2 linked regions of the Homo sapiens genome follow. The protein of the gene in region 1 purifies or fractionates together with the protein of each later gene. This does not show direct contact. Each region holds a gene or a part of one and is shown on either strand. Other genes may lie near its edges.

Region 1 (3,816 bases):
TAATCCCAGCACTTTGGGAGGCTGAGGCGGGCGAATCATGAGGTCAGGAGATCGAGACCATCCTGGCTAACACGGTGGAACCCCATCTCTACTAAAAAACAGAAAAAATTAGCTGGGCATGGTGGCGGGTACCTGTAGTCCCAGCTACTCGGGAGGCTGAGGCAGGAGAATGGCATGAACCCGGGAGGCGGAGCTTGCATTGAGTGGAGATCACACCACTGCACTCCAGCCTGGGCGACAGAGCAAGACTCCGTCTCGAAAAAAAAAAAAAAAAAAATCCATTGACCTGGAATATAACATGCTGGGATTCGAAAAAGAGACACAGAAGAAAAAGAACAGTAAATACCATATATATGAATATCAGATTTTGGTAAAATAGAAATAGTACTTGTCTTCTGTGTGTCCTACTCAATTTATTAATAAATGCATAAAAGGAAACAAAATAGGGTGTACCTTGAAGTTAGATTAAATGAAAATTAGATGGGGCATTGAAAGGTAGTGAGCAGCCACCCTTCTGAACCTTCTATTGGAATTTACCTGACTGCTGAGCAGAGAAGAGCTTATCTATTTTCCAAAGGCTTCCAGCTCAAATTGGGTTTCAATGACTTTTAACAAGTTAATTAACCTCTGTGCACCTCATTTTCTTACTCTGTAAAATGGACATAGTCACATCTACATCACTGGCTTGTTGGGAGATGTGAAATCACAGAATCTAGTGCATGTCTGGGCACATAGTATATACTCAGCTAAGCATTCTCCCTCCTGATCTGGTAAAGAAACAGCTCTCTCATCTTCAAATCCTGGATTCGGTAGGGAACCAATATGTTAGGGGCTTAAAAATTTTCTCAGAATTCCTCAAACTCAGAGATGGGTCTGGCCCATCTCAAAGGTGCCGATGGGCACTAAGAAGGGTGGGGGCTGCTCTTGTGTAAAGTTCCTAGATTGATTCAACCAATATGTCTCTCCCTCTCATTCACTGGCTTGCTCACTCCCTACAGTGCAGGAGGGGACGGCTCCCTGGAGAATGTGACCACCTTACCTAGTAAGTAACCATCAGGGGCTTGAATCTGTCTACTGTTCCACCCATCTGGCCCCTTGGCTTCCCGAAAGTGCCTCCCAGGTAAGCAGCAAATGACATCTGCCTTATGGCCCAGCATTTAAGTAGGAGACAGGAGGCTATGAAAAAGCAGCCGAGGCAGGTAAAATAAACACCAGATTTAGAGCCTGAAGATCTGAGTTCAATCCCTGGTGCTTCAATCCCTGGTGCTGGGTTCAATCTCCGATGTGCTTGTCAGGTGACCTAGGGCAAGTTACCCGCTATTTTTAGCCTCAGGCTTTTCCAACAGGCCCAGGAGGTGCTGAGACAAATTAGGTAGTGACCCTTCAATGCACTGTGAATTGTATTAATACAATTTAATACAAGAGTGAGAGGCTCTTGCCACCCTGGCCCACCTAGTCATCAGGTCATGTCAACTTAGGGTGGTCCCAGCTTATGTCCAGGACACACACTGCCTCCCTGCCTCTCCCCAGGAAGCATGAGGATGATAACACAGCCCACTTTGGGGACCTAGGTCCCACAGTACCAGAGAAGCTATTCTGGCTTTCTGTTCTGAGCCGTCTGCATCCCATTCACCTTCTCTTCCAGATATCCTTCGGGAGTTTAACAGAAACCTCACAGGCTACGCCGTGGGCACGGGTGATGCCAATGACACGAATGCATTCCTCAATCAAGCTGTTCCCGGAGCAAAGGCTGAGTATGGCATTTGGGGAGGGAGGGAGCCTGCAGAGCAGGGAGTGGAATGTGGATAGTACCCTTTAAGACCATGGGGCTGGCCTCTATGTGCAAAGGGGCACTTAGCCACTTGTGAGGCTCAGGCTGCCCTCTTCCCTGCTGCCCCTGTGACGAAGGTTGTAATAGGCCAGAGAGGCTGTGGCCTTGGAGAGATGCGATGCCCCTATAGGTTCAACTCCTGACCTTGCCTTCATGTGCAGCATGTTCTCATAATTGGACGAATCGACTAACCTTATCCAATGTTTACAACTCACCAAGGCACAACAGTGCTAGAGAGATCCACTCCCCGCAGAACCTCACAAGTGGCAATTTCCCAAAAAGATCAGAGAGGGCCAACCAAATGGATGGGGCAAGCCTTCTGGCCCTAGAGGCATCTGGAGCAAAGAGTCATGTCCCCTCCCTAGCCCCATTATGGAGCTAACAAGAAATGGAATGGAGAAGCCCAGAGGTACCCAAAGAAGAGCAACTGCCCAGCCTCCTGGGGTGGGCTCCAAAGGGGCCCCCACCCTGCTCCTAGAGGCCCCAGCAGCCTAGGTCTTCTTGCTCTATGCAGCTCCTGGCTCAGCCATCTGAGCCTCTGTCACATGTCATCTTCTTGCTCAGGCCCACACCTTCTGGTTGAGGGGTGTGGCCCCCAGACCCACTCCCTCAGCCTGGAAAGACTCTTGGTAATAGAAACAGCTGGGGACAGATGGTCCCACCACCGTGTCCTAGGAGATCACCTTGCTATGGATCCATCCCACCCAGGTCTATAACGGGGCCCTGAACAAGTGGAAGTGGGGAGCACAGACGCCTGAAATCTATTCCTTCCATAAATTATAATTTTGGCCTTTTTTTAGATAGAGTCTCATTCTATCACTCAGGCTGGAATGCAGTGGCACAATCTCTGCTCACGGTAACCTCCGCCTCCCAGGTTCAAGTGATTCTTGTGCCTCAGCCTCCGAGTAGCTGGGATTACAGGCTTCTACCATCACGCCCAGCTAATTTTTGTATTTTTAGTAGAGATAGGATTTCACCTGTTGGCCAGGCTGGTCTCAAACTCCTGACCTCAAGTGATCCACCCACCTTGCCTCCCAAAGTACTTGGATTACAGGCATGAGCCACTGCACCTGGCCTTTTTTTGTTTTTAAGATGGGGTTTCACTCTGTCACCTAGGCTGAGTGCTATGGCATGATCTCAGTTCACTGCAACCTTCACCTCCCAGGTTTAAGCAATCATCCCACCTCAGCCTCCCTAGTAGTTGGGACTACAGGCATGTACCACTATACCTGGCTAATTTTTCTGTAATTTTTGTAGAGATGGGGTTTTACCATGTTGCCCAGGTTGGTCTCAACCTCCTGGACTCAAGCAATCCACCCACCTCAGCCTCCCAAAGTGCTGGGATTACAGGCGTGAGCCACCAGGCCTGCCACCTTCCATAAATTATAAACCCAAGCATGTGTAGAGCACATATGATTCCCTACCTCTTTTTGAAAGAACCATTTAGATAAGTTTACAAACAAAAGAATATACGTAAGAGAAAAATCGCAGCCATTGGAGGAAATAAAGAGGAAGCCTGTGTGTCGATATGAACATTTTTACGGTTATTATGTTTGAGCATCAAACTCAGCTTCCTGGCAGCCAGAGTGAAAAGAGGAAGCATGCTAGAAGTTTCATAGGTCTAATTTTAGGATCTAAACTAGTCTTCCAAAGGAGATGAATGGTCTCTTAGCATGGAATCCTAAAGGCCCTTTTGCATGTGGAGTCCCAGAAAGGTGACCATGAGCAACAAATATAATTGGCAGTACTTTGACTACAGCTGTAGGACAAACACATCATTGGCTTTTCAAATGATTATCTGTTGTAATAACTTTCCAGAAGAGGCAAGTCACTCCTGGTTTCTGAGCCTCGGGATCTCTGCCAGCTCATGCAGTGGGGATGATACTGTAGAAGCCTCTGGTTCAGGCCCTCTAGGAGGAAAACTATGGGCACTGTTCCTCAACAGAAGGATGGGTTTTCTCTCTTTCTCAGGGATCTTATGAGCC
Region 2 (4,325 bases), on another chromosome or scaffold:
CAGGACAGCCCTAGTCAGAATTTGTACCCCAGACTGGAAAACTGGGGAATTCCCTGTAAGCCCTGTTACAGGGGCTGCACCCCAGATACAACCTGACCTGTGTCCAAGGCGGGCAACTCAACCCTTAGATATTGAATGGGTCCCATGGCACCAATGCTTAAACACCAGCAGCCCTCACAACCACAGATCGTGTTTTAAGGATGAGGAGGTAGTTCTCTGGATGCACAGGCTTCAATCCAAATGGGCTCATGACGCCGCAGCACACACCCAGACTGCAGCCTGAAGAGTTGGAGCATTGCATTCACAGAAAGCATCCAGACATGATCATGGGCTCAGGGATACACCTGTTCTCCGATGTGTACCAGTGAAGGATGGAAACTCCTATGCCTCCCAGAAAGCACCACTCAAGCTTTTGCTGAATGCTTCTCTGAAGGCCCACAAGGCCTGAGAGGCTGTGCAACACCAGCAGTAAAGTGAATGCCCAGACTCCCACCTCCTTTCTTGGGTGGCCATCTGGAAAGGCCACTCCCACCCTGATGGCTAATGCCTCAGACCAGTTCTTGGCCCAGATGATCCTAGACAATTGTTTAAGCTTAAACTGTTCATTGGCCAAGCAAACAGGTGATAGTCACCTCTGGGGAACCACATGCCGCGTGTACATCCAGTACTCAGGAGAACCCAAAAATGTCTGTTCCACATAGCAACAGAAGCCCAGGTAGCACTCATTCTCACCTGGGTGTTCTCCAACATCCCAGCTCAGCCAAATGGCTTTCATTGCTTTTTATGGTTAGACCCCAGGTCCTCGGGACACTGCTTTAGAAACACATTCCAAATCCTCCTCTGTGTGTAGGTGGCATTCCTATCCCAATCTCTTTGCAGGGTGTATACTATGATACGCAGCCAGGCTGTCCCAGAGGCTTTAAATATTCCCTTGGTGCAGGTAGTTCAGCTTAGCCACAGCCAATGCATCACAGGGTCAACTGTGTTAGGAGCCATTGAGAATCCATAGTTGGTTGCTGCCTGGGCCTGGCCAGGGCTGACCAAGGTAGATGAGAGGTTCCTCTGTGGAGTTCTACTTTAACCTCACCTTCCCACCAAATTTCTCAACTGTCCTTGCCACCACAATTATTTAATGGACCCAACAGAAAGTAACCCCGGAAATTAGGACACCTCATCCCAAAAGACCTTTAAATAGGGGAAGTCCACTTGTGCACGGCTGCTCCTTGCTATAGAAGACCTGGGACAGAGGACTGCTGTCTGCCCTCTCTGGTCACCCTGCCTAGCTAGAGGATCTGTAAGTACTACAAAACTTAAACTTTACACTGAGTTTTCATTATTGAAGCTATGCCTCCAATCTGACCTCTGACTGTGGGGCCACCCCAGAGGGAACCAGCGGGCGAATCCCTGCTAGGAACGTCTGTCCGGACCTCTGGTGACTGCTGGGGACGATGGCTTCCAGCTAACTTAATAGAGAAACTCAAGCAGTTTCCTTCTAAACACACATGTCCTGGTTGACATGTCCAGTAGAGACTATCACAGGTCTTTGGAACATTCTTTTGAGAGAAACCTATTTAGGTCCTTGGTCTGTTTTTCAATCAGGTTGTTTGATTTTTGCTATTGAGTTGTTGGAATTCCTTATGTATTCAGATATTTGCCCCTTCGGCCATGTAGGTTTTGCAAATATTTTCTCTCATTTTCTGGGTTATCTTTTCACTCGGTTGATTGTTTCCTTTGCTGTGCAGATGCTTTAGCGTTAAATGAAGCCACACTTGTCTATTTTCCCTTTTATTGCCTGTGCCTTTGGTGTCATAGCCAAGAAATCATTACCTACATCAATGTCAAAAGCTTTATCCTTCTATACACTTCTAGTAGTTTATGGTTTCAGTTGTTACATTTAGGTTTTCAATTCATTCTGAGTTGATGTTTCTACATGGTGTGAGATAAAGATTTAAATACATACATATATAAAATCATGAGGTAGTGTACACTATAAATATACAATTGTTAATTGTTACTCAAGTCTAAGTAGAGGTGGAAATAATAAACTTTCTTTTTTTTACTTAAACCACTCTGTGTCACTGAGCTGATTTCACCTTTAGCCTGATAAAATCATTGTCCTCTCCACCCTGATTCCTACAGGAGACTACTCACCCCATAACCTCAAAAACCTCTTCATGAGGATGGTAAGTCACCTGAATCCTGAAGTGAATTACTCGCTATTCCATTGGAACTCATATAGGACACCAGAATCTAGACCTCCAGAGAACAGCAGGACCCATCTTCAGAAAATAAGAAGCATTTGTTCCCTGAGCCTGTTGAATCAAAGTGCAATTTCTATTCTTTTTGGAATGTTAAAAAGTGAATCATAATATTTAAGCAGGTGAACCCACGAGTAACATAGCAGGGTCTTTCTTGTCATTATTAGCTCCAACCTAGCACAGACATTAAAGGTACAGATGTATACTAGCATGAAACTGGGAGAACAGGAGCATTCGAGCAACCTTGAGACCAATGGGCCTCTCTTATAAAATGCACACCTCCTCTCACTGAGATTGAGGAAGGTTTCTTGTCTCCGAGCCTTCTCCCAGTAGAGCTATAAATCCAGGCTGGCTCCTCCCTCCCCACACAGCTGCTCCTGCTCTCCCTCCTCCAGGTGACCCCAGCCATGAGGACCCTCGCCATCCTTGCTGCCATTCTCCTGGTGGCCCTGCAGGCCCAGGCTGAGCCACTCCAGGCAAGAGCTGATGAGGTTGCTGCAGCCCCGGAGCAGATTGCAGCGGACATCCCAGAAGTGGTTGTTTCCCTTGCATGGGACGAAAGCTTGGCTCCAAAGCATCCAGGTGAGAGAGGCAGGCATGCAGAGCTGCTAAGTCTAGAGGGAAGGACGGGAGAGAGGTTCCAGAGTTGGGTCTCAGCAGTCTATGTCACTGAGGTGGCTTCACTTAGAATCTCTGGGCATTGATTTTCTCATCTAGAAATTGAACAGAGAGCCAAATAAACATGAGAAACTTTATTTCTCCAAAGACTTGATTCCAAGAAACGTCTGTGAAATTCACTAAGTTTCAGATATGAAGAGACAGACTAGTTATTTCTGGATCTAAACAAGTAGACTTAGTTGTAAAGAGAACATTTTACTCTATCTACAGAAGAGCTTTTAAAAACTGCAGCCAAGCCTGAGGATATGTTCAGGTGTGTGTGTGATGGGGCAGGAATGCAAAAATGAGAGCAAAGGAGAATGAGTCTCAAATTCTGAGTGACAAGCACTGCTCTGCGTGTTTATTCCTATCGACTGAGGTTGTTCGTGCTAACGGCTGCAATGCAGCCAGCATCACCTGTCAGCTAGCATGTGACTTCCCCGAGATTCTTTTTCTTACCCACTGCTAACTCCATACTCAATTTCTCATGCTCTCCCTGTCCCAGGCTCAAGGAAAAACATGGCCTGCTATTGCAGAATACCAGCGTGCATTGCAGGAGAACGTCGCTATGGAACCTGCATCTACCAGGGAAGACTCTGGGCATTCTGCTGCTGAGCTTGCAGAAAAAGAAAAATGAGCTCAAAATTTGCTTTGAGAGCTACAGGGAATTGCTATTACTCCTGTACCTTCTGCTCAATTTCCTTTCCTCATCCCAAATAAATGCCTTGTTACAAGATTTCTGTGTTTCCACCTCTTTAATGTGTGATATGTGTCTGTGTCAAGACACTTGGGATACACGTACCAAAACGCAAAATCAAATTTTTGAACAATATAAAATTCCAAATTCTAGGAATTTCAAGCAGGAGTTTGGGCTTCAGATCCAAATTGAAAAGAAGGCCCATATGACACCACTGATTTCCCCACCCACTGCTCTGCCTTTTCACCCTGCCTCATTTTCTCTGGATCCACTCTCAAAGAGCTCGCGTGTGCTGGGCAAACAATCGGTGTCAGCTTACATTTCATGCAGTCACAAAATCATTACTTCTCCGGGAAAAAAAAACCATCCTCTGTGCTAAAGAATTGGAGTTTCATTGAACAATGTCAGATTGTACATTTTCCTTTTAAGACATAGGGTTACATGAGATCCACGGAAAAAACTTTCATTCAGAGGGAAATGGGTTGTTAGCAAAGGCGGGATACATGGAACAGAAAGCACAGCATCTCACATTGGCACGTCCTCATTAAGAGGACCCTCCAGCCACGTCTACTAAGACCTGGATTTCACAATCATAAAGTTGTCTTCACACCCAGAAAACACACACACACAAATGCTCCACCGCACTTTGCAACGCGCACCCTCTTGTGTTACCCTAAAGCTGCTGAGAACCTGATTCTGCCTGGAAAATACAG

What was found.
Region 2: the proteins of PLB1 (region 1) and DEFA1B purify together in Homo sapiens (affinity purification with mass spectrometry, with the first as the bait; one large-scale study listed by BioGRID). This does not show direct contact.

Annotation. Positions count from the first base shown.
Region 1 is NC_000002.12:28,597,007-28,600,822, forward strand, and holds part of PLB1 (phospholipase B1, membrane-associated isoform 1 precursor), read left to right. Parts: intron 1-998; coding exon 999-1,042; intron 1,043-1,645; coding exon 1,646-1,754; intron 1,755-3,802; coding exon 3,803-3,816. UniProt on the Homo sapiens protein: Calcium-independent membrane-associated phospholipase that catalyzes complete diacylation of phospholipids by hydrolyzing both sn-1 and sn-2 fatty acyl chains attached to the glycerol backbone (phospholipase B activity).
Region 2 is NC_000008.11:6,996,092-7,000,416, reverse strand, and holds DEFA1B (neutrophil defensin 1 isoform 2 preproprotein), read left to right. Parts: upstream 1-1,218; 5' UTR 1,219-1,294; intron 1,295-2,139; exon of another isoform or gene 2,140-2,174; coding exon of another isoform or gene 2,175-2,183; intron 2,184-2,653; coding exon of another isoform or gene 2,654-2,665; coding exon 2,666-2,840; exon of another isoform or gene 2,841-2,971; intron 2,972-3,420; coding exon 3,421-3,530; 3' UTR 3,531-3,651; downstream 3,652-4,325.